Homo sapiens: one gene and its partner. The protein of the gene in region 1 interacts with the protein of each later gene in a pairwise test. Each region holds a gene or a part of one and is shown in the gene's direction. Other genes may lie near its edges.

Region 1 (3,500 bases):
AGAGCGAGACCCTGTCTTGGGAAAGAAAAAAAAAAAAAAAGCTTTGAATGAGAGACTCCCTGGCTTCTGTCTTCAAGGGCTTTTCCTTAATGAACCCCAACTCTGCCACTCAGATCTCAGTGAATATCTTCCGGACTCTGCCGCCCAGTGAGAACCCTGAATTTGACCCTGAAGAGGATGAGCCCAATCTTGAGCCTTCGTGGCCACACCTGCAGGTCTGAAGGGTTGGGGAAGACAGAGATCCAAGTTTCAGAAGAGATCCAAGGCATGGGGAGAGGGCCTCCTTAGCCCCTAGACAGTTGGATGAGGGCCATAGGGTGGAATGAGTGGGTGAGGCTGTTACTGAACTCACCTTTTTGTCTGTCCCCCTCCCCCAGCTGGTATATGAGTTTTTCCTGCGTTTCTTGGAGAGCCCAGACTTCCAGCCCTCCGTGGCCAAGAGATATGTGGATCAAAAGTTTGTCCTGATGGTGAAGTGGGGAGCCCAGGCTGGGTGGTACCACAAGGCAGGGGCAGGCTCTCTGAGGGGCCAGGGATAGGATGGAAGCAACCTGGGGTGGACCTTTCCCCTGACCCTGACCCTGACCCTGACTCTGGTTCCCACAGCTCCTGGAGCTATTTGATAGTGAGGATCCCCGGGAGCGTGAGTACCTCAAGACCATCCTGCACCGGGTCTATGGCAAGTTCCTGGGTCTCCGGGCCTACATCCGCAAACAGTGCAACCACATCTTCCTCCGGTGAGTGGCTGCTGCCTGCCCAGCAGAGACCTGGGGAGGGTGAGAGGGCTGTTAGAAGACTGCGGCAAAGGCCATGTGCGGTGGCTCACACCTGTAATCCCAGCACTTTGGGAGGCCGAGGTGGGTGGATCACCTAAGGTGAGGAGTTTGAGACCAACCTGGCCAACATGGTGAAACCCCGTCTCTAATAAAAATACAAACATTAGCCAGGCATGGTGGTGGGCACCTGTAATTCCAGCTACTTGGGACGCTGAGACAAGAATTACTTGAACCCAGGTGAAACCCCGTCTCTACTAAAAATACAAAAAATTAGCCGGGCGCGGTGGCGGGCGCCTGTAGTCCCAGCTACTCGGGAGGCTGAGGCAGGAGAATGGCGTGAACCCGGGAAGCGGAGCTTGCAGTGAGCCGAGACTGCGCCACTGCAGTCCGCAGTCCGGCCTGGGCGACAGAGCGAGACGGATGAACCCAGGAGGTGGAGTTTACAGTGAGCCGAGATCATGCCACTGCACTCCAGCCTGGGCAACGGGGAGACTGTGTCTCAAAAAAAAAAAGAAAAGAAAACAAAAAAAAAGAAGACTGCAGCAAAGGCTCCTGGGCTGCAGGGGCCCTTGTAGAACTTCTGTTTTCCAAGCCCTTTCTCAGTAACGTATTACATATTGATTATACAAAGCCTGTGAAGTTGACAGAGAATGGGTATTTATTTCCATTTTACAGATGAGAAAGTAGAGGCCAAGAGAGATGAAATGGTTTGCAGGGACTGGGTCAGTCCAGGGGCCTAGGAGCTAAATCATTTGACCCTTATCATGCCAGGCCATAAGGACCCAGAGAGAGATTCTTTCTGCAAACATGCACTGAGCACCAGCACCCACTGGGCATCAAGGCTCACGTGGCCTTGTAGTTGAGACCATGGCTCTGAAGCTGTATGGCCTACATTTGAGTTTGGTTCCAACGTTTGGGTGAACTTTGGCAAATTACTTAAGCTCTCTCCTAGTTTGCTCGTCTTTAAAATGGGAATGCTGGCTGGGTGCAGTGGCTCATGCCTGTAATCCCAGCACTTTGGGAGTTGGAGGTGGGCAGATCACTTGAGATCAGGAGTTCAAGATCAGCCTGGCCAACGTGGTGAAACTCCGTCTCTACTAAAAATACAAAAATTAGCTGAGTGTGGTGGTAAACACCTGCAATCCCAGCTACTCAGGAGGCTGAGGCAGGAGAATCGCTTGAGCCTGGGAGGTGGAGGTTGCAGTGAGCCAAGATTGCGCCACTGCACTCCTGCCTGGGCGACAGAGCGAGATTCCATCTCAAAGATAAGATAAAAATGGGGATGCTGCTTGTACTAACTCAGGGACCATTATCGAGGTGACATGGGGCCTTGCCTGCAAAGCACTCAGCATAGCTCCTGGACTGAGGCCGGGACTCTGAAACATTAGTTGTTATTAGCTACAAAATGGGTGAGCCATGATCCCTGTCCTCCTGCACCTTGGAGTTCATTAGATTCCCTGCCTATTAACATTGGGGTTGTTTTATTTAACCGCTGAGTCTTGATTTCTTCATCCATGTGATGGATTTCTTAAGCCCCATCTCCCTGGATAATTCTGAGACTTACATGGTACGGAGTAGATGTGCTAAGTGTTTGTCATTCTCTTGGTTGACTGGCAAGAGAGCCTTGAGCTTGGGACTCAGTGGCAGAGGTGGCTGGGCTGAGAAGGGCATTTCAGTGTGGGGGGGCGGGGATCTCAATGGGGCCTGGTTTGGGATGTTGGGAAGGGAGCGCAGCCTCTGGGTTGGGGGAGAGTTGGATGAGCGTGCCGTGCAGGTGAGGGTGGGCAGGCAGGATGCCTAAGGGGGCACTGGGCCTACCCTGCTTGCTTTGAGCCCACCTGCGTTCTTCTCTTGCAGGTTCATCTATGAATTCGAGCACTTCAATGGTGTGGCTGAGCTGCTGGAGATCCTAGGAAGGTGATTCTCCCTGGGCCTCAGCTGGAGCTCAGGATTCTGGAAGGAGGGACTGGGGCCAGGTCACCTGAGCCCTCTTCCTCTCTTCTGCCTCCTCCTCAGCATCATCAATGGCTTTGCGCTGCCCCTGAAGACGGAGCACAAGCAGTTCCTGGTTCGCGTCCTGATCCCCCTGCACTCTGTCAAGTCGCTGTCTGTCTTCCATGCCCAGGTGAGGCCCAGGCCTGTCCCTGCTGCAGCAGGAGCTCCAGACAGTCAGGGCAGCCAGTGGGTCCTGGAGGTCAGATCCTCCAGGGATCCTATCTCACCTTCTTTGTCTTTATAATTCTGTTCCATCTACCTTAGAAAATTCCCACTGGCGCTTTAAGGCTAACCTCAGATATCAGCTCTGTGAAGCCAGGCTTTTCTTCTCTACCCTCCCTTGGCAGAATTACATTCTTCTCCATCTATATTCCCAAATATTTGGATACACAAATCTATTATGGGAGATTTTGATACACAATTTTTTTTTTTGAGACAAAACCGTACTCTGTTGCCTCAGCTGGAGAGCAGTGGTATGAACATGGCTCACTGAAGCCTCTACCTGCTGGGCTCAAGCAGTCCTCCCTTCTCAGCCTCCCGAGTAGCTGGGACCACAGATGTATGTGCCACATGCCTGGCTAATTAAAAAAAATTTTTTTTTTGTAGAGACAGTGTCTTGCTATGTTACCTAGGCTGGTCTCAAACTCCCAGGCTCAAGTGATTCTGCTGCCTCGGCCTCCCAAAGTGCTTGGATTACAGGCGTGAGCCACCACACTAGCCATATTATGG
Region 2 (3,500 bases), on another chromosome or scaffold:
GCGGCTGGAGAGTGTGGACTGGCGGCGGCTGAGCGCCATCGACGTGGACAAGGTGGCGGGGGCTGTGGACGTGCTGACGCTGCAGGAGAACATCATGAACATCACCTTCTGCAAGCTGGAAGACGAGAAGTGCCCACACTGCCAGTCGGGGGTGGACCCGGTGCTGCTGAAGCTCATCCGTCTGGCGCAGTTCACCATCGAGTACTTGCTGCACTCACAAGAGTTCCTCACCTCGCAGCTGCACACCCTGGAGGAGCGGCTGCGCCTGAGCCACTGCGACGGCGAGCAGAGCAAGAAGCTGCTCACCAAGCAGGCGGGGGAGATCAAGACGCTCAAGGAAGAGTGCAAACGCCGGAAGAAGATGATCTCCACCCAGCAGCTGATGATCGAGGCCAAAGCCAACTATTACCAGGTGGGCAGCTGTGTGTGAGCACGATTCATAATCCAGTAAACAACTCAGTTCCCATTTGATAGGCCTGTCCCGTATCACCACTCTTTCTTCTTAAAGATTTATATTGTATATCAGAAGACACAGTATATTTAAGCAAAAACAGTCATTTAACCAACAAATGTCATGGTTCATTACCTTCTGCAGACAATCAGGGGATTAATAATTAAACAACAAATGTCGTCTGTGGTGCTTTATGGAAGTTATCTAAATGCTGGTTGTTGAAACACTTTCCTCCTCCGAATCAACCTCAACATGAAAAAACCATATACAAATTGCTGTTGAAGCCAGTCCCCAAACGATGCAGAATGTTTAAATTTGTAGGGTCTTTTTCTCATTTTTATAAATTTTGAAATACTTTCAAACTGACAGAAAAGTTGCCAGGAGACTGTAAGGAATTTTCATGCGCCCTTCACCCAGATTCCCCCATTATTAACATTTTCCACAGTCCCTCTATTTCTGTATACATATTATTATTACTTTTGAACCATTTCACAGTGAGTTGCAGATCCTAAATATTTCGATGTGTATATTTTCTAAGAACAAGAACATTCACTTACATAACAGTATTTAAAGAATAAAATATTTTTATCTTCTGGTCTTAATCTTCTACTGTTTTGGGTTAGACATTGAGTCCAAGATAAATATTGCAATTTTTGAGTATAACATAAACCAATGTATTTTTTTTTTATTGACTAGTTGGAGGAAGTGCAGAAGGTATAAACAATGATTGAGAAAGATATTGAAGTAAGCAACAGATTAACAAGATTGATGTCATGCCCTTACTTTCTAGTCCTTTCGGCTGACTATGGCTTAAAAGGCCTCACTGGATTTAGGAATAGTGGAGCTGATGCATGAATGCTGGAGAGAACTGGGTGCAGGGCAGAGAAAATGGTGCAGTTAATATTGCTCAGGACTGACCCAGCAGGAGTGTTGAGTGTTCTTAAGATAGGGGAACAGTGGCCGGGTGCAGTGGCTCACACCTGTAATCCCAGCACTTTGGGAGGCCGAGGCGGGCGGATCACGAGGTCAGGAGATTGAGACCCGAGACCATCCTGGCTAACATGGTGAAACCCCGTGTCTACTAAAAATACCAAAATTCGCTGGGCTTGGTGGCATGTGCCTGTAGTCCCAGCTACTTGGGAGGCTGAGGCAGGAGAATCGCTTAAACCCAGGAGGCGGAGGTTGCAGTGAGCCAAGATAGCGCCACTGCACTCCAGCCTGGCAACAGAGTGAGAATCTATCTCAAAAAAAAAAAAATAAATAAAAATAAAAAAGATAAGGGAACAATTAGGAATATTATTAGAAGGACTTAGTGTTTGGTCTTGGGTAGACAACCCTGAGGTATAATCTTCAAATGACACTGGGCATTGCTAATTGCTTATTTGTTTTATAAATGCTGCTTAAAAATTAAATATTTACAAATAGTGCTAAGATGGTTTTTTTCTTGTGCAACGAATATAATGGATTCTATTTAAACATTTTTAAAGATTTATTATAGTCCAGCTTTAGCAGCCATCTAGTGAAATGTTAAAACCTCTAACATACAGAAATTGTATGTTTATAAACTTTTTTTTCCTTTTTTGGGGTTACTATAGAAATGGCTGTTATAAGAGAAGATTTTCTTTCTTTCTCTTTCTCTCTCTCTCTCTTTTTTTTTTTTTTTTTGAGATGGAGTCTCACTCTGTCGCCCAGGCTGGCGTGCAGGGGTGCGGTCTTGGCTCACTGCAGCCTCCTTCTCCCGCGTTCAAGCGATTTTCCCACCTCAGCTTCTTGAGTAGCTGGGACTACAGGTGTGCACCACCATGCCCAGCTAATTTTTGTATTTTTAGTAGAGACGAGGTTTCACCGTGTTGGCCAGGCTGGTCTCAAACTCCTGACCTCAAGTGATCCACCCACCTCAGCCTCCCAAAATGCTGGGATTACAGACGTGAGCCACCACACCTGGCCTAAGAGAAGATTTTCAAATGTGAATGATAAGTAATGATTAAAAGGTAATGACTCAATTTATCAAATGAGTGACACCTACTACTTTTTCAGCTACCAGACCTTGGCAAGTTGCTCAACCTCCCTGTGCCTCAGTTTCTACTCTGTGAAATGGGAATATTAATTGTACCTACCATATAGCAGTTGTTAATGGGGATTGAATGACTTAGTGCATAGACTGTGCTTAGAGCAGTGCTTGGCATGTAGTTAGTTATTGTTTTAGCTAATACCTGGGAATGAGGGAAAAACGTTTTGTGGCATGACAAATACTAAAGCTGACTTACTACAAAATGTGAACAATCATATGACTGCTATCATGTGAGTTTTTCTTTCTTCCCCTATACAGAAAATCCAAAGCCTAGACTCCTTGTTCTGACACAATGATTGGGTCCACCGCATTATCAGTTTTACCTTTGAGAAATTGTGGTCTCATTCTCATTCTCATACCACTTCTCTTTGTCTCTACTCCCTTTGCTTTAAGAAATCATAAGAACTGAGTAGCTGAGACAAAAAAAAATTAAAGATGCCTGTTCTTGAAGGCTTGAAGACACAGACAGACAGACACACACACGCACGCATCCTAATGGGTTTTTTCCCCCATGGGGTGTGCGTGTGTGTGTGTGTGTGTGTGTGTGTTGTGTATAAGGGGGGTAGTGATGGCAATGTGTAAGGTCTTTTTCCTCAATATTTTATTTAAAAAATTTAAAATGCAGAAAAATTAAAACAACAATATAGTGAATACCCATATATGGGGGATTTTAAAAGAAAAATCTCATCGATTTTCAAATAAAAATTAGTACTGAAATATTATAAACATACAAAAAAGTGCATAGACTAATGTAAGACATACCATATACCCACCTCTTAGATTTAACTCAGGTTAGGCTGGGCGCAGTGGCTCACACCTGTAATCCCAGCACTTTGGGAGGCCAAGGCAGGCAGATCATCTGAGATCAGGAGTTCAAGAGAAGCCTGGCCAACATGGTATAACCCCATCTCTACTAAAAATACAAAAATTAGCCAGGTGTGGTGGCGCATACCTGTAATCCCAGCTACTTGGGAGGCT

The links.
Region 2: the proteins of PPP2R5B (region 1) and DZIP1 interact in a two-hybrid assay, tested with the Homo sapiens proteins (one study listed by IntAct).

What each region holds. Positions count from the first base shown.
Region 1 is NC_000011.10:64,927,689-64,931,188, forward strand, and holds part of PPP2R5B (serine/threonine-protein phosphatase 2A 56 kDa regulatory subunit beta isoform), read left to right. Parts: intron 1-113; coding exon 114-215; intron 216-377; coding exon 378-470; intron 471-606; coding exon 607-737; intron 738-2,633; coding exon 2,634-2,693; intron 2,694-2,792; coding exon 2,793-2,901; intron 2,902-3,500. UniProt on the Homo sapiens protein: As the regulatory component of the serine/threonine-protein phosphatase 2A (PP2A) holoenzyme, modulates substrate specificity, subcellular localization, and responsiveness to phosphorylation.
Region 2 is NC_000013.11:95,638,207-95,641,706, reverse strand, and holds part of DZIP1 (cilium assembly protein DZIP1), read left to right. Parts: coding exon 1-412; intron 413-3,500. UniProt on the Homo sapiens protein: Molecular adapter that recruits protein complexes required for cilium assembly and function to the cilium basal body.